7 linked regions of the Homo sapiens genome follow. The protein of the gene in region 4 interacts with the protein of the main gene of each other region in a pairwise test. Each region holds a gene or a part of one and is shown on either strand. Other genes may lie near its edges.

Evidence for each region.
Region 1: the proteins of TMEM237 (region 4) and MS4A13 interact in binary tests that used the Homo sapiens proteins (3 or more experiments, as listed by UniProt).
Region 2: the proteins of TMEM237 (region 4) and OPRD1 interact in binary tests that used the Homo sapiens proteins (3 or more experiments, as listed by UniProt).
Region 3: the proteins of TMEM237 (region 4) and CNIH3 interact in binary tests that used the Homo sapiens proteins (3 or more experiments, as listed by UniProt).
Region 5: the proteins of TMEM237 (region 4) and CLN6 interact in binary tests that used the Homo sapiens proteins (3 or more experiments, as listed by UniProt).
Region 6: the proteins of TMEM237 (region 4) and TMEM11 interact in binary tests that used the Homo sapiens proteins (3 or more experiments, as listed by UniProt).
Region 7: the proteins of TMEM237 (region 4) and ST6GAL2 interact in binary tests that used the Homo sapiens proteins (3 or more experiments, as listed by UniProt).

Annotation. Positions count from the first base shown.
Region 1 is NC_000011.10:60,521,892-60,525,391, reverse strand, and holds part of MS4A13 (membrane-spanning 4-domains subfamily A member 13), read right to left. Parts: intron 1,496-3,500; coding exon 1,439-1,495; intron 186-1,438; coding exon 66-185; intron 1-65. UniProt on the Homo sapiens protein: May be involved in signal transduction as a component of a multimeric receptor complex.
Region 2 is NC_000001.11:28,860,670-28,864,169, forward strand, and holds part of OPRD1 (delta-type opioid receptor), read left to right. Parts: intron 1-2,072; coding exon 2,073-2,614; 3' UTR 2,615-3,500. UniProt on the Homo sapiens protein: G-protein coupled receptor that functions as a receptor for endogenous enkephalins and for a subset of other opioids.
Region 3 is NC_000001.11:224,738,317-224,741,054, forward strand, and holds the end of CNIH3 (protein cornichon homolog 3), read left to right. Parts: intron 1-1,012; coding exon 1,013-1,040; 3' UTR 1,041-2,238; downstream 2,239-2,738. UniProt on the Homo sapiens protein: Regulates the trafficking and gating properties of AMPA-selective glutamate receptors (AMPARs).
Region 4 is NC_000002.12:201,623,095-201,626,503, reverse strand, and holds part of TMEM237 (transmembrane protein 237), read left to right. Parts: intron 1-356; coding exon 357-478; intron 479-2,181; coding exon 2,182-2,249; 3' UTR 2,250-3,409. UniProt on the Homo sapiens protein: Component of the transition zone in primary cilia. Required for ciliogenesis.
Region 5 is NC_000015.10:68,219,729-68,223,228, reverse strand, and holds part of CLN6 (ceroid-lipofuscinosis neuronal protein 6), read left to right. Parts: intron 1-3,500.
Region 6 is NC_000017.11:21,207,662-21,211,161, reverse strand, and holds part of TMEM11 (transmembrane protein 11, mitochondrial), read left to right. Parts: exon of another isoform or gene 1-226; intron 227-3,500. UniProt on the Homo sapiens protein: Plays a role in mitochondrial morphogenesis.
Region 7 is NC_000002.12:106,841,168-106,844,667, reverse strand, and holds part of ST6GAL2 (beta-galactoside alpha-2,6-sialyltransferase 2), read left to right. Parts: exon of another isoform or gene 1-410; intron 411-633; 5' UTR 634-690; coding exon 691-1,633; intron 1,634-3,500. UniProt on the Homo sapiens protein: Transfers sialic acid from the donor of substrate CMP-sialic acid to galactose containing acceptor substrates.

The sequences.
Region 1 (3,500 bases), on a different chromosome or scaffold from region 4:
GATTTCAAAATTATTAAAAAGAATAATTTTAAAATTAATATGTTCCCATAGAATTGGTCACTTACTGCTTGTCCATAATTCCTGTATGACACAGAATTAAAATGAGACAACTCTATTATTGTTAGAGTTACTGCAGTAATTGTAGTAATTATGCAGATGATGTTTATGATTAAAGTACTTATAATCTGAAAAGGAGACAGAGGGCAAATTTATTATATTCAGAATAAACATTTTGGTGTAATAGTTTGCATTGCTGAAAAAACTCATCTAGTTAAAACTTTGATCTAGTTTCTGAAGTCTTAGAAGTATTAAATATTAAGAAAATATTTTTCTGATTTATATGAAGCCCAGTTAATCTGGAGGAAACATTAACACCATCAGTCCATTAATCATTAATCTTCCATTTAGGCTAAAACATATTGTATTTTTTGGGGCCGGGCGCAGTGGCTCACGCCTGTAATCCCAGCACTTTGGGAGGCCGAGACGGGTGGATCACGAGGTCAGGAGATCGAGACCATCCTGGCTAACACGGTGAAACCCCATCTCTAGTAAAAATACAAAAAAATTAGCCGGGCTTGGTGGCGGGCACCTGTAGGCCCAGCTACTTGGGAGGCTGAGGCAGAATGGTGTAAACCCAGGAGGCAGAGCTTGCAGTGAGCCGAGATTGTGCCACTGCACTCCAGCCTGGGTGAGAGAGAGAGACTCCATCTCAAAAAAAAAAAAAAAAAAGTATTGTGTTTTTCAATGTTATAGGTCATTTGGAAGAAAGCATATAAGATATGATTTGGACAAAAGTGGTTCCACTGTAAGAAAAAAAAAAAAGTGGAAAATGACTGCTTGTAGAAATAGGAGTCAGTTGATAAAATTTTAATCCTGGGTTTTCATTATCTAAGGAAATCTATCAGTATCTTCAGACATCATTTTTTTATCTGTAAAATTATGAGGGCAGACTAATTTCTAAGGTACGTTTTAGCTCTAAGATTCTAAAGTGTTCTTCCCAATTCTATCCACCTATACCATGCATGGATCTTTAATCTGGACCAATTCTGTACTTTGTTACAGGACACAATCTTGTTCCCAAACTGGATAGTTCAGAAAATGAAGTTTTACAGTAGTATAATGTCTATATCTAAAGGCATTAGGTCCTATTAAAATTTTTTAATTATAAAGTTTACACAATGTTAAAAGGCAGAACATCAAACAAAACAAAAACTATATATACATTTAGAAACCTATACATAAAGTAATCATGATTTTAACCAATACAGTATATTTGTCTATATTAAATTATGTTCTTCTAGATTCATTCTTAATTCTTTCATTTACTTTACAGGTAGGGTAGATTCCTTCATTGTTTAGACGTTATATTTTCATTAAAACTTAATATTTAGCTTTGTGATAAGTGATTTCTAGAGATACCTCAAACATTTCAACTTACTCCAGATCGAGTCGGATACTTTGTTACTCTTATTAGGAAGACTCCTGCAATGATAAACTGGATATAAAAACATATTTATAAATACTCATTGATAATGCTTGCCAATTTAGAATGTACTTTTAATAACTCTCTTGTAAGTCAATTATTTTAAGAATGCTAATAGTAACAAAATATACAGAAGTTTTAGTAGATGGGTCAGGACAAATTTACATCATGTAGTAATACATTGAAAGGTAATAGTAGAGTCACTCATAACAGAGACACATAGGGGACAGTGGGCAGATTCACACTGTGATAATATGCCAGACAGCCTAAGCAGTCCTGACCGGGAACCAAGTTTGCTTTTATGTGTATGAGATACATCATATATAACTCATTTGATTATTGCTTTTAATGTTATCCTTCCTAATGAGATGATGACACTACTTATGATTACTATGTACATATCCAAATATGGAAAAAGTGGTTCAAGAATCTATTCCATATTGTGATGGTACAAAATATGCAGTCTCTTTTATGAGATTGTAGTCATTATTAAGGTAATGGCAGAAATTCATGCCTTTGCCTTTGTTTTTTAAAACAGAGGTTCCATTATTTCATGTCAGGAAGTCTGTCTACTTCCAAGAAGTATAAAACTATGCCATATTGTTTGAAGATGGGTTGCACAATTTCCTCAAAGTATTCCTTATTTGTTTTATTGATAAGACACTAAAGATCCAAGTCAAAGGCTATTTTTGTCATGCTATACACTATATGTAGGAAGCCCAAACCTGAAGCTTACAAACTTCCCATGGATAATTTTAAATCTATTTGTTCAGCACTTCATTCCACAACAAAAGCTGAGATTTCTAAGGAGGTACACAGTGAACGTAAGAACTAGCTCAGAATTTAAAGTGAAAATATCTTGTGAATTTTGAATTAGAGTGCTCTCTAATGAGATTATCTTTCGATTACTATGTGTTTTACAAAATGCCTTTCAAAGTTTAGGCTTAAGTGAGAAGTTTAGTATTAAATTACATTTAGTTGAAATTTTAGATAAGTTATCCTAGGAGTTTAATATACTATTTTTATAATATGAGTGGTCAAACACTAAGGAAAATGCATCATTTATTTGGATTTTGTTGGAAAATCCACAGTTTTTCTCCTCTTTTTTAAGGTAGTGCTTTGACACTTGTGACCCAGTGCATCATTTATCATTTATCACCTATGAACCAGTGCATTATTTATGAGCCATTCATCTTTTATGAACCATGTATCATTTATCTGGATTTTGTGCAAAAATTCAATATTTTTCTCCTATTTTTTCAAGGCAATCCATTGACACTTATGAATTAGTGTATGTATAAAAGTGGGAGACCTCCTAGAGATCATTGTTTCTTCTAGTGATTAATTGCTGTCTCAATGGGCAGCCATATTGTATCCTACAGCCCTCATTCCATCTGTTCGAAGTGTGGGATAAGTGGTTTCCTTGCTCATTATTGCTATCCAACCATTCTTTCTCCTCCACCTTTGAATCACATGTCAGTTTCTATAACTCACTATCCTTCATGGTTTAAGTAATCTATTGACCCCTTGGCCATTCCTCTTTTCGAATGAATTGAAATTTTGACTCTCTGATTCTCTCTCCAACATCACTTAATATTTGGTGATTTTTACACACACACACAAACACACACATACATATATATGTGTGTATATATCTATATATATACATCTATCTATCTATCTATCTATCTATCTATCTATCTATCTATCTGTCTGATCTTTTGATATGGTTTGGCTCTGTGTCCCCACCCAAATCTCATCTTGTAGCTTCCATAATTCCCATGTGTTGTGGGCGGGACCCAGTGGGAGATAATTGAATCATGGGAGCGGGTCCTTCCCATGCTGTTCTTGTGATAGTGAATAAGTCCTATGAGATCTGATGGTTTTAAAAATGGGAGTTTCCCTGCACAAGCCCTCTCTCTTTGCCTGCTGCCATTCATGTAAGATGTGACTTGCTCCTCCTTGCCTTCTGCCACAATTGTGAGGCCTTCCCAGCCATGAGAAACTGTAAGTCCAA
Region 2 (3,500 bases), on a different chromosome or scaffold from region 4:
TCAGAGAGGTCAGGTGGTTTACTTAGGGTCACACAGCCAGGCATTTTGTGGAATTTGGCCTGCAACCTAGGGTTCCTGCCCCCAGGTCTGTTACTCCTTCTAGTCCCTTTTGTGGAAGTTTGCAGAGGGTTGATGCTGTGGGTGGGAGAGAACAAGCTTCTTGGTTACCTTTGACCCTCACAAGGGCAGAGTCCCTGGTGCCCTTTTATAGCCTGTGAGCCATTGGCCTTGACTCACAGCAGAGCCCCATTCCTCACTGTCAGCCTTCAGCTTACGGGCCATTAACTGCATCCCTCCTGGGGCTGGACCAGATGGGCCTCCTCACTCCACAATCCCTCACACACACACTTTCCCAGTGTGTGCCATCAGCACTTATTGAACCTGTGGGCCACTTGCTGTGTGACCTTAAACAAGTGCTGTTCTGGTTCCTATACAATGAAGGTCTTGGATTCAGTTACTTCTAGGGGTCCTGCCAGCCTGATGTCCTGTGGACCCACTCTGTCTGTGGATCCCCAGCCCCTTCTCACTTCTTAGCCTCAAGTCCATCGTGTGGCTTCTTAAATCCTAGCATTCCAAGAGATCCTGGGAGTCCCCTGGGCCAGCCTCAAGGCTGTATCAGAATCCCACAACACCCCCTAAGGTGTTCATCCAGCCCAAGCCCACACTCCAGGAATGGGGAGCTCATTTCATCCTAGGCACCCTTCCTATCTCAAGAAGGAAGTCCTTGAGTTAAGCTGAAGTCTGCTTTCCTCCCAGAAGGAAGGAAGTTTTGTTTTGTTTTTGTTGTTGTTTTGAGACAGGGTCTCGCTCTGTCACCCAGGCTGGAGTGCAGCGGCACTATCCCAGCTTACTGCAGCCTCAACCTCCAGGGCTTAAGCGATCCTCCCACCTCAGCCCCCCAAGTAGCTGGGACTGCAGATATGCACCACCATACCCAGCTAATGTTTGTTTTTTTTGTAGAGATGGGGTTTTGCCATGTTGCCCAGGCTGGTCTCCAGCTCCTGGACTCAAGCAGTCCACCTGCCTCAGCCTCCCAAAGTGCTGGGATTACAGGCATGAGCCCCATGCCTGGCCAGGAGGTTCTTGTGATTAAGCTGAGACCTGCTTCCCTCTAGGGAGCCTGACCCTATCCTTGAGTCCTGGACTCCCCCACATATATGCCCCTCTTTCCCTGTGGGTACGCCAAGAGCTTGAACCCCACTATGCTAAATGCTTTAGGTACCTTAGCCTTTTCTTTTCTTTTCTTTTTTTTTTTTTTTTGAGACGGAGTCTCGCTCTGTCGCCCAGGCTGGAGTCCAGTGGCACGATCTCGGCTCACTGCAAACTCCACCTCCTGGGTTCACACCATTCTCCTGCCTCAGCCTCCCGAGGAGCTGGGACTATGGGCACCTACCACCATGCCCGGCTAATTTTTTTGTATTTTTTTTTTAGTAGAGATGGGGTTTTACCGTGTTAGCCAGGAGGGTCTCGATTTCCTGACCTCATGATCTGCCCTCCTCGGCCTCCCAAAGTGCTGGGATTACAGGCGTGAACTACCGCACCTGTCCGCCTTAGCCTATTTAATCCTTACGACAATCCTGGAGATGTGGGTACTGTCATTAGCCCCACTCCACTGAAGCTCCAAGAGGTTTAGTAATTTCCTTACACTATGTAGTAGGGCCTGAGTCCTGCTCCTAGCTCATGTTGTCTGTCTTAGCAGTCCTGTCCCCAATGGAGCTAGTTTGGAAATGGGTCAAGGTGCTTTGAGTTACTGCAATGACTGGCATTCAGTGGGCTGAGCTAAACGATTTCATTACGGCCACCCATGGACACAAAGGCTGAAAAGGGGCCAGGAGAGAACATAGGGGACCTCCCTGATGAGGGCCAATCCTGCTAGGTCTTTACGGATAACTAAGAGTTCACCAAGTACCGAAGCCGAGGAGGACACTCCAGACAGAAGAATCCCCTTGAACAAAGGCTGGGAGGAGGTGGTGGGACTTGCCCAAGCCTTGAAAGGGTGGGCAAGCAGGTGGGGGCCCCTTAGGCACACAGGCCCCTCACCCCGTCTGTCTTTCCTTGTTTCCGCGGCCCAGACGGGGCAGTGGTGTGCATGCTCCAGTTCCCCAGCCCCAGCTGGTACTGGGACACGGTGACCAAGATCTGCGTGTTCCTCTTCGCCTTCGTGGTGCCCATCCTCATCATCACCGTGTGCTATGGCCTCATGCTGCTGCGCCTGCGCAGTGTGCGCCTGCTGTCGGGCTCCAAGGAGAAGGACCGCAGCCTGCGGCGCATCACGCGCATGGTGCTGGTGGTTGTGGGCGCCTTCGTGGTGTGTTGGGCGCCCATCCACATCTTCGTCATCGTCTGGACGCTGGTGGACATCGACCGGCGCGACCCGCTGGTGGTGGCTGCGCTGCACCTGTGCATCGCGCTGGGCTACGCCAATAGCAGCCTCAACCCCGTGCTCTACGCTTTCCTCGACGAGAACTTCAAGCGCTGCTTCCGCCAGCTCTGCCGCAAGCCCTGCGGCCGCCCAGACCCCAGCAGCTTCAGCCGCGCCCGCGAAGCCACGGCCCGCGAGCGTGTCACCGCCTGCACCCCGTCCGATGGTCCCGGCGGTGGCGCTGCCGCCTGACCAGGCCATCCGGCCCCCAGAGCGCCCCTCCCTAGTGACCCGGAGGCCACATGAGTCCCAGTGGGAGGCGCGAGCCATGATGTGGAGTGGGGCAGTAGAAGGTCGGAGGCTTGGGACCGCCAGATGGGGCCTCTGTTTCGGAGACGGGACCGGGCCGCTAGATGGGCATGGGGTGGGCCTCTGGTTTGGGGCGAGGCAGAGGACAGATCAATGGCGCAGTGCCTCTGGTCTGGGTGCCCCGTCCACGGCTCTAGGTGGGGCGGGAAAGCCAGTGACTCCAGGAGAGGAGCGGGACCTGTGGCTCTACAACTGAGTCCTTAAACAGGGCATCTCCAGGAAGGCGGGGCTTCAACCTTGAGACAGCTTCGGTTTCTAACTTGGAGCCGGACTTTCGGAGTTGGGGGTCCGGGCCCAGGACCCAGAAAGGGCAGTGGTGGGGACAGTTGCTTGAAAACTGAGCTGCAAGACTGGGCCTCTGTGTAGTAGGGAGGAGCCTCCTGTGAGGGGAGACCCAGAGACAGGACAGCTGGGTGTGGCTACAGCTGAAGATTTGGTCACCAGATAGGGCGCCTGTGCAAAGGGCCTGTGGCCTCATCTTTGGATACGGGATACAGTCCCAGCCCTGAGTTCTAGCAAGGGGCAAGGCTCGCTGAGGTCCAGGTCCGACTTGACACCTTTATAAATAGAATATAAAAGACTGAGGGGCCAGGCGTGGTGGCTCAAGCCTGTAATCCCAGCACTTTGGGAGGCCGAGGCAGGTGGATGGACATGAGCCCAGGAGTTCGAGACTAGTCTGGGCAACATGGGAGACCCTGTCGCTACAAAAAATACAAAATTAGCCAGGCATGGTGGTGTGTACCTGCAGGCCTAGCTCCTTGGAAGGTGA
Region 3 (2,738 bases), on a different chromosome or scaffold from region 4:
GCTTTGGAGTTAGAATGTGGCTTCTCGCCCTGCTGTCACTCCTCATCTGGCCCTCAGCTTCCCCAAGTAGAGTAAGTCCCTCTTGCTCCAGGTCTGACCAGTGGTTCTCTGTGTACATGAGGTGTGTGAGGTTCCTGAAGATGGAACTTGAGCTACTCAGAGGAGCTCATTGGGCATCCACAGCTGCAAAGGGTTAGAAGTCAAACCTTTTCATTTCTTTCCTTTGGTTTTACTTCTTAGATGAATCTTTTTTTCTCACTATAATGTGAAAAGATAGTTGGTTTCTTTTTCTGCGAAATAGACAAAGAGGTATATTTTGGTGCAGATCATTCCTCAGCCTTGCAAAATTACCCTGAAGCCCTTACTAAGCGCACAGGGATACATGTCCCCTTCACCCCACTCTTAGTAGTATTGGGGCAATACTTTAGGTCACACACTTTTAATGCATGTTTAATTCCTGGAGTCCATTAAAAATAAGAGGGCCAGGGAGTTACCCAATCAAGAATTCATTGAGTTCTGGTGCCCAGAGGGCTTATGTTCCCACGCTGGCCTTTGCAGTAGTGATGATGATCTTTCCCCCAGCACTACCGTATTATCCAGCATCATCTGGGAGCCCCTGGACACAGCCATCATGCAAGCACATGGCAGCTGGTGGCATAAAGAATCCACTGCACCCCCACCTCCACCCCCAGACCTGCCCTGCAATTGCACAAAAAGGAAAACAACCATAATCATCATCCTGATGAGAATGATAATAGGCACTTAGAGCTTTCACATCTTTTATCCAAGGGATACAATATGCTCTCCCAAAAAATTTTTATTCCAGTGTTGTGGGAAGTAGAAGGGGCACAGTAGTGGAGTTGGCGAGATGCTGTAGTGACAGGAATGAGGGAGAAGCCAAGGGGTCTGGCCTCTGGAAGGTCCCTCTCCTGAGGGGCAGCCTGAGTCCTCTGTGGGCTTCTACTAACACCTTCCTCTCTTTTTTTTTTTTTTTTTTTTTTTTTGCATTCAGCATGATCTACACTTTAGTGAGCTCTTAACGCAAAGACCATGCACATCATCAGAGACTGAGATGGGAGAGGCCTGAGACGGAGAGGTGCATTTCTGCTGGTGACTGGAGGAGGGACCAGAATGAGGATACGTGAGAAATAGACCCGGCAGGCAGTCAGACTGAATGGGAGCTGGAATCACGCAGCAGCTGGGAGCCGAGTTAACCCTGCGTGTCTGTGTCACCCTGTTTGTCAATCTTTGGCATTCGAATTCCACACACGGGGTCCTAGAGCCCTTCTGAGCATCAGTGGTGTGGGGGAGTAGGTGACGAAACACTAGACCTCTCCTGAGAGAGAATTGCTGCTTCCTGAATCCACTTCATTGAACAGCACCTTGCAAGTTCAAATGAGTTCCTGGGAGCGGAGGCTGGAAGGCCACAAGGTGCTTGCTAAGGAACAGAATGACCCAGAGTCAAGGCCAAGTCTGCAGGGACCTGTTGAAAGCCTCGAGAATGTCTTGGCTGCCCAAGACTCTTGTTGCCTTTCTTCCAAGCCATGGCCATGCCCTTTTTCTCAAATGGGAGGGGCTGGAGGGTGTGTGGGATTTGTCTTCAGCTGCAACCAGCCTTGAGCCTGCTGGGCTATTTTCAGCTGAGGAGGGGTGAATATAGGAAAAATGCATTTTTGAAACGTTTGCAACATGATCAAGGTGTTAGTTCTCCACCACACAAGTTGTATTCTTCTTTTGCCACCTCAAACCATCACAGAGTCTTTAAATGCAAATCAATTGGTCAATGCTAGTCAAAGCTATGTTCTTACAAAAACCCCAGACAGCTCAGAGCTCAGAAAATCCTGTGGAGTGGCTGCTCTGTACCGTGGGCATCCGGCAGCCAGGAAGTGAGACAACATAATTATAACTTTGTTTTATGATGCTGCATCATTTGTACTGTTTAGGTCGACGTGAGGACATCATCTTATTTAGAATTTTCCGTTTGGCATTCTCTTTTGGGTGGGAGTTATGCTGGGGGTTGTAAATAATGACAAGGCTGAGATTTTTATGATGTTTAAATTGGGCACAATGATTTTGACCTTATTCCCCAAACTTCTTTTCTTTTCTACTGTTTAACATACACAGGCTATTTATACACGTCCCCAGCTCCCATCTGAAACCTGTGACTCAGGTTTATGAATGGTGTTTGTGTAGCAACACATTGTGTGCTATGTTTATTAAAATGCAGCGACAACTTGAGTGTCTCACTTAACTGGCTCTCTCATTTCAACCATTACAGCTGAATTTGTCTACATATGGTTGGAAAACTGATAGGAAGAAAAGGCAAATTTTCAAAAAGGCATCATGCTGCTAAAAATTCTGTGGAAAACAAAATGCAGACTTTTACTCTGAGGTTTATGGTATAAAACTGGAGAATTTGAGGTGATGATTTTGGGAGAAGGCTTCCTCTTGGCCAATGCCCTTTTTACCGACCAGGTAACTGTTGTTAGGGATAGAGTTACCTTTCGGCTGCTTGGGCCTGGCTTTGGCTTCATTCCTGAGAAGACTAGTGACCCTCATCCAGAGAGGCAAGCCTTGGATGGCAGGCTGCAGACGCTAATCTAATCGCACAGCCGTCCTGCAAATGCAACTGGATGTAGAAGGTGAATGGTCTGTGTTACTTCTCACCATGGAGCTGTTTTGTTTCTATACTCTGTCTTCTTTCAGAAAGATTTGTAGTGGCTCATAATAGGAGACAC
Region 4 (3,409 bases):
GTCTTTTTTGAGAGAGTGGCTAGGGACATTAGGTAAAGAGAAAGCAAAGATACTTTATTGAGGATTAATGTCATGGTAGTTGGAAGGAAAACTTTTAGAGAATTTTCTTGGGAATACTAACTTTGCATTTATATGAATGTATACAGCAGATCTGTTCAGAGTTTAAATAACCTTTGAACCCTTGTTCTCATTATATATGTGGTATATTTTACAGGGAAATTATATTTTCTTTCACACTTTACTTGTTATTTCTCTAGGAGAGGACTGCTGTTTTTTCTTAAAGTTCATAAAATAGATATATTTGTGTATATGAACCAAACTGAAGGCACTTCTAATGAGTGTTTCTACATTTTTAGGGAAGCAGGAATTGAGGAACAGATTCTCCAGCCATGGATTGTGGTGAATCTCGTGGTGGCTCTTCTGGTTGGATTATCTTGGCTATTTTTGTCTTATAGGCCAGGCATGGATCTTAGTGAAGGTATTAAAGAAAAAAAATAGCATAAGAATATCCTGAAATCTTCTATAATGGTTTTATAAACCTCCTTTTAATAGGTATAGCTTATAATATTCCAATAACAAAGACACATTTAAATTAAAATGATACAAGAAGAGAGAAAATAAAGTGGTGTAACAGAATGCCAAGAGAAGCAGGGAGGAGTGTCTAGGAGGGCTTGAGTCTGGAACTACTTAATGAGGGGCTTCTGTGGCCCTTGTGCATTTTCAGGAGGTATTTCTTCTCTTGGAACCCTTCAAGTAATGTAGAAAAAGTCTTTGCTCTTCACTTCTCTTAGTCTCCTGCTGATGAATTTTGAAATAAATCATGCTTTGTCTACATAGCCTCTCTGTCGGACACATACTCAAGTCAATTATTCTTCCTTCTCTATTTGGTACAAATTCTTAACCGTTCATTGGCTAACAGTGTTTAGTACTCTTTTAACATGCTCAGTGTGCAGTGATTCACTCATCTCTAGTCCCCAGACCCCTTTTGGAACACCTGAAGAAGAATCATCATATTAGCAAACTGCTAACCTTTTATGCTGCTTGAGGAACTGTTTAGTATTTGTATTGTAAATTGTGTTTCCTTGGCCAATGTTCAACAGTTTTACCCTTGAATATCTTTTTTTTTTTATTTTTTATTTTTGGAGATGGAGTCTCGCTGTGTCGCCCAGGTCAGAGTACAGTGGCTCGATCTGGGCTCACTGCAAGCTCCGCCTCCCGGGTTCATGTCATTCTCCTGCCTCAGCCTCCCGAGTAGCTGGAACTACAGGCGCCCGCCACCACGCCCGGCTAATTTTTTGTATTTTTAATAGAGACAGGGTTTCACCATGTTAGCCAGGACAGTCTCAATCTCCTGACCTCGTGATCCGCCCGCCTCGGCCTCCCAAAGTGCTGGGATTAAGGCGTGAGCCACCGCGCCTGGCCAAACATCTTTTATGGATATTTTCTGGGTCTTGGTTATTATTTTATTTTTTATTTGACCAACTATTTACAACCTATCTGCCTCAGAAGCCTTAGCATGCAGAATTTCGCCAACATCTATGCTAAGTAATAGTTTAAATGTAGAAAATGTCAGCTAATAACATTCTACATTGTGGCTGGGATCAAAACTGCATCTGGATTGTGCAGTATTCAGTCTAAATATTTCCAGAATCCTGTTCTTTTAAGGCCATGTTAGTCATACAACATGTGGATTTAAAAAGTAAGTATAAAATGAGATGATAATACCTGGCTTCTTGCGTTGTTTTGATGATTAAATGGGATGACCCATTTAAAATATCCTGGCACACATCTCTTGTTAGTTCCAAGTCCTTCCTCTGTATCTGTCCCCTATGTTTCAGATGATCTGATCACTGTAGAATTAGACATTTTAGCTGTTTAATGATCTTTGATTCTCTAAGTGACTTAAATTTCCAGGTAGGATTGTGTATATTGTCTCTATTACATTTTACTTTTAAGGGGTCTATAATTTAAAATTTAAATATTTTAAAATGTAAAACTTGTACATTTGTTATCAGCTTACCTTTTAAATCATATTTCACTGTCAAGAAATCTTACTTGAGGGCTTTCTATTAGTATATATTATGTCAATTTTTTAAAGGACTATTTATAAATAAGCTATACAACTCTGTTGGAGGTACTGGGAAACAATTTTAAGTATGATCTGTTCATTTTCTTCTCCAGAGTTAATGTTCTCCTCAGAGGTGGAAGAATATCCTGATAAAGAGAAAGAAATCAAAGCCTCTTCATAATACCAGCTCACCTTTGGAGGAATAATGACCCAGTATTTGTCCCATTTTTGTTTTTAAATGTATTTTTATAAGATGTATACATGTGTATTTGTAATAGATTTTTTGATTATATAATACTGAAACATCTCTCAATATTATGAAAAATGTTAAAATTGTGTTTGCTGTTTATGTCTAAACATTAATTTGTCTAGCATTATCATCTTAATGACAAAGGGAATAATGAACTAGAAACCAGCAAGTGAAAGTGTTTATTTCCTATTTTCTCAAAACAGTTGTATTTATAACTATTACCTTAAAAAGCACTGGTTTAGAAAAAGCCATAACTTAAATAGTGTTATAAAATATATATCAGGTTTAAACATAAATTTAGCGAATATGGTAGAAGGGAAAAAAGCCTTCATTTTTGACCTCCCCTTACTGAATAAATTGAAATATGAAGTTTGTCTTTTCTGAAACTGGCTTAGTGATTGAGTATCATGTAATAATTATAATATAATTTAGCTTGAAAGATGCTCTACATTATGACCAATAAAAAGGGAATGTATGTTTTGTTTGAAAAATTATATAACCTAAATTTTTTACCTAGAAGTAACTAAAAAGTTGCTTCTCATTATAATCTGTACTAGTGGTTCTCATATCTGGTTGTACATCAGGATCATAGAGGGAGATTTTAAAAATCTATGTAGCAAAAGAGGCTGAGCAGGGCAAGGCTCAGGGGAATAAAGGAGAGACCTGTGAGCTTGTGGGCTCCCAGTTGACATCTGCAGTACCCTTTCCTCTGTCCCTTTTTTCTGAGTGACAAGAAATAGGAGTAGAAATTCACCATCTCTGTTCTCCAGCTCTTTGTCAGAGAGGTTTCTGGTTTTCCAGGAAATCCCCCTCTTGAGATGGGTCCTGCACTGGGAAAGATCTCTTCAGAACTATATCCAATGGTACCTCAGCTGTTGTATATGAGACCCTAAAGCTCAAGTTGAGGAGAAGACTAGCTATGGGAAAAAATGTTTCAAAGGCTGTTGAGCACATCAATAAAACTATTGAGCCTGCCCTGATTAGCAAGCACCTGAATGTTATAGAACAGAAGAGGATTGACAAATTGATGATAGAGACAGTTGACCCTGACAATAGGTCTAAATTTGGAGTGAACATTATACTGGGAATCT
Region 5 (3,500 bases), on a different chromosome or scaffold from region 4:
CCTAGTTAGATTCATCCATCCGTGCTTTGAGGCTCCCTTCCCTCATGCAAGCTTTGTGTATTGCCCTAGGCCACGCTGATCCTTTTCTTTTTTTTTTTCAGTATTTATTGATCATTCTTGGGTGTTTCTCAGAGAGGGGGATGTGGCAGGGTCATAGGATAATAGTGGAGAGAAGGTCAGCAGATAAACACGTGAACAAAGGTCTCTGGTTTTCCTAGGCAGAGGACCCTGCAGCCTTCCTCAGTGTTTATGTCCCTGGGTACTTGAGATTAGGGAGTGGTGATGACTCTTAACGAGCATGCTGCCTTCAAGCATCTGTTTAACAAAGCACATCTTGCACCACCCTTAATCCATTTAACCCTGAGTGGACACAGCACATGTTTCAGAGAGCACGGGGTTGGGGGTAAGGTTATAGACTAACAGCATCCCAAGGCAGAAGAATTTTTCTTAGTACAGAACAAAATGGAGTCTCCTATGTCTACTTCTTTCTACACAGACACAGTAACAATCTGATCTCTCTTTCTTTTCCCCACATTTCCCCCTTTTCTTTTTGACAAAACTGCCATCGTCATCATGGCCCATTCTCAATGGTCGCTGTCTCTTCGGAGCTGTTGGGTACACCTCCCAGACCGGGCGGCCGGGCAGAGGCACTTCTCACTTCCCAGACGGGGCGGCTGGGCAGAGGCGCTCCTCACTTCCCAGACGGGGCGGCCAGGCAGAGGTGCTCCACACCTCCCAGACGGGGCGGCCGGGCAGAGGCGCTCCTCACCTCCCAGACGGGGCGGCCGGGCAGAGGCGCTCCTCACATCCCAGACGATGGGCAGCCGGGCAGAGACGCTCCTCACCTCCCAGACGGGGCGGCCGGGCAGAGGCGCTTCTCACCTCCCAGACAGACGATGGGCAGCCAGGCAGAGGCGCTCCTCACTTCCTAGACGGGGTGGCGGCCAGGCAGAGGTGCTCCTCACTTCCCAGATGGGGCGGCCAGGCAGAAGGGCTCCTAACCTCCCAGACGGGGCGGCTGGGCAGAGGTGCTCCTCACCTCCCAGATGGGGCGGCCGGGCAGAGGGGCTCCTCACCTCCCAGACGGGGCGGCCGGGCAGAAGGGCTCCTCACATCCCAGACGGGGCGGCCGGGCAGAGGGGCTCCTTACTTCCCAGACGGGGTGGCCGGGCAGAGGCGCTCCTCACATCCCAGACGATGGGCAGCCGGGCAGAGGCGCTTCTCACCTCCCAGACAGGGCAGCCGGGCAGAGGGGCTCCTCACTTCCCAGACGGGGCAGCTGGGCAGAGGCGCTCCTCACTTCCCAGACGGGGCGGCCGGGCAGAGGCGCTCCTCACATCCCAGACGATGGGCAGCCAGGCAGAGGCGCTCCTCACTTCCTAGACGGGGCAGCTGGGCAGAGGCGCTCCTCACTTCCCAGACGGGGCGGCCGGGCAGAGGCGCTCCTCACATCCCAGACGATGGGCAGCTGGGCAGAGGCGCTTCTCACCTCCCAGATGGGGTGGCCGGGCAGAGGGGCTCCTCACATCCCAGACGATGGGCGGCCAGGCAGAGACGCTCCTCACTTCCTAGATGGGGTGGCGGCCGGGCAGAGCCTGTAATCTTAGCACTTTTGGAGGCCAAGGCAGGCGGCTGGGAGGTGGAGGTTGTAGCGAGCCGAGATCACGCCACTGCACTCCAGCCTGGGCAACATTGAGCATTGAGTGAGCGAGACTCCGTCTGCAATCCCAGCACCTCGGGAGGCCGAGGCGGGCAGATCACTCGAGGTCAAGAGCTGGAGACCAGCCTGGTCAACACGGCGAAACCCCGTCTCCACCAAAAATACAAAAACCAGTCAGGTGTGGCGGCGTGTGCCTGCGATCCCAGGCACTCGGCAGGCCGAGGCAGGAGAATCACGGGAGCCCGAGGCAGGGAGGTTGCAGGGAGCTGAGATCACGGCAGTACAGTCCAGCCTCAGCAACAGAGGGAGAAGGAAGAAGCGAGGGAGAGGGGGAGGGTTGGGGGAGGGGGGAGGGAGATCCCTTTCTAACCTGATCTCCTGATAAGCCTAGTAATCAAAAACAGAATAGCAAGCTGTTGGCCAGACATGGTGGCTCACAGCTGTAATCCCAGCACTATGGATGGCTGATGTGGGTTGATTATTGAGCCCAGGAATTTGAGGCCAGCCTGGGCAACATAGTGAGACCTCATCTCTACAAAAAATAATAATAATAATAATAATAATAATAAAATAAAATTAGCTGGGCATAGTGGCATGCACCTGTGGTCCCAGTTACTCAGGAGACTGAGGTGGAAGGAATGCTTGAGCCTGGGAGGCCAAGGCTGCAGTGAGCTGTGATCACACCACTGTACTCCAGCCTAGGTGACCCTGTCTCCAAAAAACAAAACAAAAAAACAGAATAGCAAGCTATTAAGAGCACAGGTCTTGAATTAACATAAACCCAGGTTTGAATTGTGTGTGTTATTCAGGACGACTGGGTTGCAAGTGACAGAAAGCCAGTGTGAACTGCACCATCCTTAGCAAAAAGGAATGTGTTGGCTCATATGGCCAGATCATGAACTGGCAACATGAACACTGTCAGCACTTTTTCTCCCCCTTTCCCTGATCCTCTCTGCGAGGCTACTTCATTCTTACCTGGATGTCCCTTGAGGGTGGAACCTTGGCTGTAGGCAGTCCTGGGCTTGCACCCTTAGAACCCAGCACTATAAAGGAAGGAGCTCTTTTCCTCACCTGCAGTTGGAAAAGTCCCACTGGGCCAGTCTAGATCACTGGCCCTTCCTGTGGCTAAGAAAATATCATGTCTTACCAGAAGAAGCAGTGGGTGGGAAATAGGCTGACAAAAGGAATTGTTGCCACAGCTCCTTACTACACGGGTGGCTTTGGCTAAGCACCTAATCCCTCTAAGCCTCAGTATCCTCATCTGTAAAGCAGATGCGTGGATTAGATGAGATAGTGCAGGTAAAGACCTAGCATTGCACATAGTTGGTGTTCAGTGAGGGGGTGGAAGATACCGAGTAGAGGGGACAGGAAGACTTAGCTGACCTAGGGAAGGCCTACCCAACCTGTCTTGCCTGCCACTAGAAAATGAGATTTCTCCCAAGAGCTTGCCTCCCTGTCCTGGGGTACTCTACCAGCCAGTATGGATCATCCTTGGAACTGGCAGGAAGGGATCTCAGAAAATTAGGGAAGCAACAGCAGTATCGACAGAAGACAGTCTTTGCAGTGCCTCTAAGCTAATGTTTGCCACTACAAAAGGAGTAACTGGTCGTTGTGACTGTTTTAATCAGCCAGTAGTTGCTGAGCATGGACCAGGGCCTGAGCTCAGAACTCTGGAGGAATACAGATTTGTGGTCCATGGCGCCTGTTCTTGGCACAAACGAGACGATGAAACCCACACCTCAGTCCTCTTAGGATGTGGCTGGCTGCTTGTCCCTGGAGGTGTGCAAGTAATTGCAGGGACTCTGTAAAGAGGATTTGGACTCTGATAGGGAGGTGGGTG
Region 6 (3,500 bases), on a different chromosome or scaffold from region 4:
TTCAGCACACTGGCAACGAGCACATCAAACAGATTGCCACTTGTCCTGTCGGCGTCTTTGAGACACACTTGCCCATCTAGGAAAGCACAGTGCAGGTATCTGTGTTCTGCCACCGTGTGCCAGCCCGGACCAGCTCACAGACAGCCCTGCCTGTCTTACTTGGGCTGCTCGGCTTCACTGTCTCAGGGCCCCTGAACCTCCCAGAGCCCTCCGTGATTGTTGGAATGTGAGTATAGCTGTGTGCTCTTGAGTTCCTGTTTTTATAATCACGTGAAGATGTACTTGATCTGCTTCTGAGCATGATATGAGGCAACCTGGGGTGTGCAGAGGGCCAGATGCACGGGGCTAAAAGTTCAGGTTTAGCGCGAAGTTATTTGTTGTGGCCTGCCCCTCCCCTGGCTTGCGCGGCCATCTGCTCCAGCGTTTTATAGGCAGCCAGTTCCCTGGGCTGACTTTCATGGCTTTCCTTGCCATGCTTTATTCCCCAGGACCTGTCCTCTTCTTTGTGAACTCAGGTGTGCCTGGTCCCAGGTGGCCCTTACACGTTCATCCAGTGAGCAGATGGAGCACAGGCCCCGGGGGCAGGTTGGGTCATGGTCCCGGGGTGACAGCTTCCCTTTCTGATCTGATCCTTCCCTTTTAGACTCTCAGGCTTTGGGAGTATTTAATCTCTCTTGAAAGACTCCATGCTTGCTTTTGTGTGTGGCGGGAGTTTTTGTTTCCTTCTGGCTGGGATGAGATGAGCAGATACGGGATCTGCACCCAAGTGTGTGGGGGTTTAGCCACTGGTTGTGGGATTCTGCTCAGCTCTTTAACAAAGGCAAAGCCACATGTTCTGGCCGCAGAAGTTGGATTCGTAGGTAAGGATGGGGTTCATCCTCTTCAGTATTGATGTGCCTTCAAGTTTTCAAGAATTTCTGTTTTCCTTGGTTCACTCAAGCAGCCTGGATTCCAAGTGCATTAATTTGTGTCTCAGTGGTTCAGTCCTTTAGGTCATGTTCCAGGGAAGGCTCCCCTTTCTGAAGAGGGGAGGGCTGCGCCTGGGTCCACGGAGGTGGGGAGGTGGCTCCTCTGCCCCGGCTTGTCGGTGTGCACCTGTTCTTCAATGAGCGAGGTGCGGGGGGTGGAGTTGGGCAGCACTCCATGACCGAGCACACCCGGGAACCTCCTGACTGCCACGGTGTTCCGCCCTGGTGCCAGCAGCCACTTTATGGGCACAGTTCTCAGGAAAAGCTGACAGCCATGTAGTAGTCATAACAGTTCTTCAGAGCAGGGCTGTCCAGTAGGAGTTTCTGGCATGACAGACTCCTGGCGTGTCCCTGCAGTCCATTAGGGCAGCCATTAGCCACGTGTGGCTCTGAGGAACTGAGGTTTCATTTATTTATTTATTTTATGAGACAGGTCTGGCTCTGTCACCCAGGCTGGAGTGCAGTGGTATGATCTCGGATCTCTGCAACCTCCGTCTCCCTGGCTCAAACCATTCTCCCACCCCAGCCTCCCGAGTAGCTGGGACCACAGGCATGTACCACCACGCCCAGCTCATTTTTGTATTTTTTGTAGAGGCAGAGTTTTCACCATGTTGTCTAGGCTGGTCTTAAAATTTGTGGGCTCAAGGAATCCACCCGCCCTGGCCTCCCAAAGTGCTGGGATTACAGGCGTGAGCCACTGTGCCCGGCCAGGAACTGAATTTTTTAAGATGTCTAATTTTAATTAATTTAAATTTCAACAGCCACATGTGTCTTAGGCAGAGGGGCAGTGCTTGGCGACTGTTCCCATCTTCACTGCAGTCCTCTGGGAGAGCCAGGGCCTCTGGCCCCGTTTGACAACATGGGAAACTGGCTCAGAGGGGCCGGGTGTTTTGCCCTAGGACACAAAGCCAGTAGGCAGCCGAGAGGGAACTTGAATCCACCCTCTCGACTCCCACACTTGGTGCGCCGTGTTCCTGCTCCCCAGATAGAAGGGCTGCTGAGTTACCAGTGCGCAGAATAGGAAAGTGTCCTCTGAAGCAGACGAAAGGGCTGGGTGTCCTGTGAAAGTTCCTTGGCCTGTGGGAGCCGTCCTCAGGCCATGGGGCCGCATGCCCGTGCCTTTGAGTCTGGGGCACGGGCTTTCACTGCTTCAGTCCTCTGCTTTCTGTGGGTCCCAAAGAAGCAGGGCTTAATTAGGCAGAAGCGGGTGGAGGTCCAGCCCAGCACCTCCTGTATCATAGGTGATCAAGTGACCCTTTCACTAAGTGAAAAGCAGCCTGACGGATGGGTTGACTTTTCTGGTACCAGTTCTCTTAATAACCATAATTGTTTTTCTCCTCCTGTGACTCCTGTGGCTCATGTCTGTAATCATTACAAATGTCCCTCCAACCTGTGTCTTTTGGGAACCTGTTACATTCAGGCCCAGTGCTGGGGAAACTACGATGAAAATGCAGCCTCTGCCCTCATGGAGCTTCAGGCCTGCCTGTGAGCCCGGGCCCCACTCCAAGAAGGGGCCTAATGTGGATGCTTCCACTCAGATTTGCCTCTGCTGGGTCTCTCAGAACTGGGAAGGTGATTGGTGGCTGGCCTGGCAGCTTAGCCAGTGTTTGCTCAAGGGAAACGGAGCTGGAACTGCCCTCCTCTTTTTGGGCAGGACTACAGGTACACACCAGCATGACACCTCAGCCATGAGAAGCTGCCCGCGTCCAGACTTCTGCCTTTCATGGACACCGAGAAGGTTCTGGAGCAGGAAGTGAGCCACCTCCCGCTCTTCTTGGCAGTGGAAGGAGGCCCTCCCACGGGTATCTGGTCCCTTTACCTCAAGGGATATAGGGTTGAACAGAATTTTTCTTTTTAAGAATAAGTTTATAATTATTTTTCCTGTTATAAAAGAAACACTTTGGCCGGGCGCAGTGGCTCATGCCTGTAATCCCAACACTTTGGGAGGCCGAGGTGGGCGGATCACGAGGTCAGGAGATTGAGACCATCCTCGCTAACACAGTGAAACCCCGTCTCTACTAAAAATACAAAAAATTAGCCGGGCGTGGTGGCGATTGCCTGTAGTCCCAGCTACTCTGGAGGCTGAGGCAGGAGAATGGCGTGAACCCAGGAGGCGGAGCTTGCAGTGAGCCAAGATCACGCCACTGCACTTGAGCCTGGGCGACAGAGCGAGACTCCGTCTCAAAAAAAAAAAAAAGAAACACTTTTTTTTAAAAAATATAGAAAAGCATGAAGAAATTGACAAGTCACCTATTAGGCCACCATCCAAAGAAAACCACTGTTGATCTATTTTCTTGTTTCTTTTGAGACAATGTCTCGCTCTTGTCCCCCTGGCTGGAGTGCAGTGGTGTGATCTTGGCTCACTGCAACCTCTACCTCCTAGGTTCAAGCGATTCTCCTGCCTCAGCCTCCTGAGTAGCTGGGATTACAGGCGCCTGTCACCACACCTGGCTAATTTTTGTATTTTTAGTAGAGACGGGGTTTCACCATGTTGGCCAGGCTGGTCTGAAACTCCTGACCTTAGGTAATCCG
Region 7 (3,500 bases), about 95 Mb from region 4:
AGGCACCCTGAAATAACATTCACCCACAGACACAGTCACTGAAGCATTGCTTTATTCAGTGCCATCGGTGGACTTCTGGTATGTTCTAGGCAGCCTTCCAGAATGGGGAGAACAGGAAGAATCAGATAGGGTTGTCACTCCTTAGAAGTGCACAGCAGCGCTGCTGTAAAATCTATGAGCTCTGAGCTTTCGGTGGTCTGATAGGCAGACAAAAGGGGCAAACCATGCTTACCTCTCTGGCTTTGCTTTATCAAATTGGAATTTTATCATCTCAGAAGTAGGGGGAACTTGTGGGCAGGGGCACTACTGTCTATCAAAGTGGGAAGGCAGACGTGTCCCTGAGTCACATGGGGAGGATTTTGCAAATATACACCCATCCATCGCCTCTCTCCAAAGACTCACCTGAGATGGTGAGATCCCTTGTTTTGCAGAGGTTGGTGGGAGGTGGGGGGCGGGGAGGGGGACAGATATGACACCTGGATTTAGCTAAAACTCCTGGATGATTCTGGTTTCTAGTGCCCCTTCTACAACCCCACCCCACCACCTACAGAAACACTGCTCAAGATAGAATGTCCCCAGCAGCATCTGAGCAGATGCCCCATGTTGGCTAACTGCCATCTGGCTGTTTTTCAGGTTCATTCTGCCACCCATCTGCATTAAGACACAAGGTGCTGACCGCAGAGACCTGCCATGAAACCACACTTGAAGCAATGGAGACAACGAATGCTTTTCGGAATATTCGCTTGGGGGCTCCTCTTTTTGCTGATTTTCATCTACTTCACCGACAGCAACCCCGCTGAGCCTGTACCCAGCTCCCTCTCCTTCCTGGAGACCAGGAGGCTCCTGCCGGTGCAGGGGAAGCAGCGGGCCATCATGGGCGCCGCACATGAGCCCTCCCCGCCTGGGGGCCTGGACGCACGCCAGGCGCTGCCCCGCGCCCACCCAGCCGGTTCCTTTCATGCGGGGCCTGGAGACCTGCAGAAATGGGCCCAGTCCCAAGATGGGTTTGAACATAAAGAGTTTTTTTCATCCCAGGTGGGGAGAAAATCTCAAAGTGCTTTCTACCCGGAGGATGACGACTACTTTTTTGCTGCTGGTCAGCCAGGGTGGCACAGCCACACTCAGGGGACATTGGGATTCCCTTCCCCCGGGGAGCCAGGCCCACGGGAGGGGGCTTTTCCGGCTGCACAGGTCCAGAGGAGGCGGGTGAAGAAGAGGCACCGGAGGCAGAGAAGGAGCCACGTGTTGGAGGAGGGCGACGACGGCGACAGGCTGTACTCCTCCATGTCCAGGGCCTTCCTGTACCGGCTCTGGAAGGGGAACGTCTCTTCCAAAATGCTGAACCCGCGCCTGCAGAAGGCGATGAAGGATTACCTGACCGCCAACAAGCACGGGGTGCGCTTCCGCGGGAAGCGGGAGGCCGGGCTGAGCAGGGCACAGCTGCTGTGCCAGCTGCGGAGCCGCGCGCGCGTGCGGACGCTGGACGGCACCGAGGCGCCCTTTTCTGCGCTGGGCTGGCGGCGCCTGGTGCCCGCCGTGCCCCTGAGCCAGCTGCACCCCCGCGGCCTGCGCAGCTGCGCTGTCGTCATGTCTGCAGGCGCAATCCTCAACTCTTCCTTGGGCGAGGAAATAGGTAGGTCTCAGCGGGGGGACCAGGTCGCCCTGTCTTGAGCCAGTGTGTCCCTGGGGGCCGGTTCTTTCTGAGCGCGCCTCTGGATCTCTGACGGGGCAAGCTGGGGTCTCCGCACCAGGTGTTCCTAATATTAGCTGGAGATTCTTCAGGTGCTTTCCCATTGCTGGCACAGAATGAGTCTGCCTGGGGTCACAGCAGAAGTACTCTTCGGGAGACTCTTAGAGCAGGGATTTGGGGAATGCTAGGGAGCAGGAAGGGTCCTCCCCATAGCTGATGCCAGTAGGCAGTGGAAGGAAAGCGCCGCCCTTTGCCCCCGGCGTCCTTCTCACTGTTCAGACTTCGTATCCCATAGAAACCGCAGTCTGCATGGATATGCCCCCAGGCTGTGGCCCCTGAAAGCCCGGTGAACCCATCCTGCAGTGGGAATATGGGAAGGGAACAAGAGGAGGAGGCAAGAAAGCAGAAGCTGCCCAATCAGGGCGTCAGCTCCAAAGAGCAGGGTGCATGAAGATAATATTGGTTACTGTGAGCTCTGAGAAGAGCCCAGCTGCTGTTGGGAACATCTTTCCCATGGGAGAATAAGTTCCGGCCTCCCAACTGTTGGCGCAAATCCAACCTTTGGGGCACTGCCAGTGCACCTACCAGGGACCTTCTCCAAGATGGTAAATAACATGCAACACCTGGGCTTCCTCCCTCCCTGCCAGGCTCTGCCTTCACATCCCTGTCAAGAGCCCTGGAGCACATGTTTCCCAGCTCCTGTATCAGTCAGGGTTCTCCAGAGACTCACACCAGGAGGATATGTGTCTATACAGAGACAGATTTATTTTAAGGACTTGACTCTCATGATCGTGAAGGCTGGCAAGTCTGAAATAGGTAGTGCAGCCCAGCAGATGGGAAACTCAGGCAGAGTTTCTGTGTTGCTGTCTTGAGGCAGAATTGTTTCTTTTTTAGGAAACTTCAGTCTTTGTTCTTAAAGCATTCACCTGGCTTGAGGAAGCGCACCTGCATTTTGAGAGTCGTCTGCTTTTCTCAAAGTCTAGTGATTTAACTGTTAATCACATCTTAAAAACACCTTCCCAGCAACATCTGGACTAGTGTTTGACCAACCAGCTGGGCACTGTGGCCTAGCCAAGATGGCACACAACATTAGCCATCACTATTTCTTCCTAGTTTTCAAGTAAAATACCAATTCTAATCTTTTTTGATTGATGGGGCCATGGCAGGGTTCAAATACGTTTCCCTCCTGCAGAGTGGTGTAGGTTCTGCACCAGATGGGCCTGCATTGGCTCTCCTCAGAATTCCCCTTCCTCGCTGGATCACATTCATTTCCCCACCTGCCCCAGACTCTCACCCTGTCTTGCCAGAGATACCCAGGCTCTTGTGTTGCCATAGCTGGGCTCTCCCTCAGCAGTTTCAGATCCCTTTGCTCCCGGAACCCCCCTTCTTCCCAGGCTAATTCCACTGCTAGACCAGTCAGCAAGCAGCTTGGCCCTTTAGGCTCATTCATTTGACAAATATGTGTTTAGCCCCTAATATGTGCTTGATTCTGTACGAGGAGCAGTAAAACAAATGTGAGTCAAATACAGCGTCAGCCTCAAGTCCAGATATAAAACAATCATGTCCTGTACACTCTCACAGTAGGCGTTGTTAGGGCATAACTGGTCTGGAAGTGACATTCCGGGAGTGTTGCTCCCTCTTTGCAAATAAGTAATCTTTGTTGTCTTCATTTTAAGCGGATCCATTAGTTGTTCTGTGTCCTTGAAGAGTGGCCTATGTTCCAGAGTTCTCTCGGAATAGGGTGAAGCCACTGTAGGCAGGCTCAGAAGCCCAGATCTCAGCTCAGCAGAAGTCCTTGGGCATGAGGCTG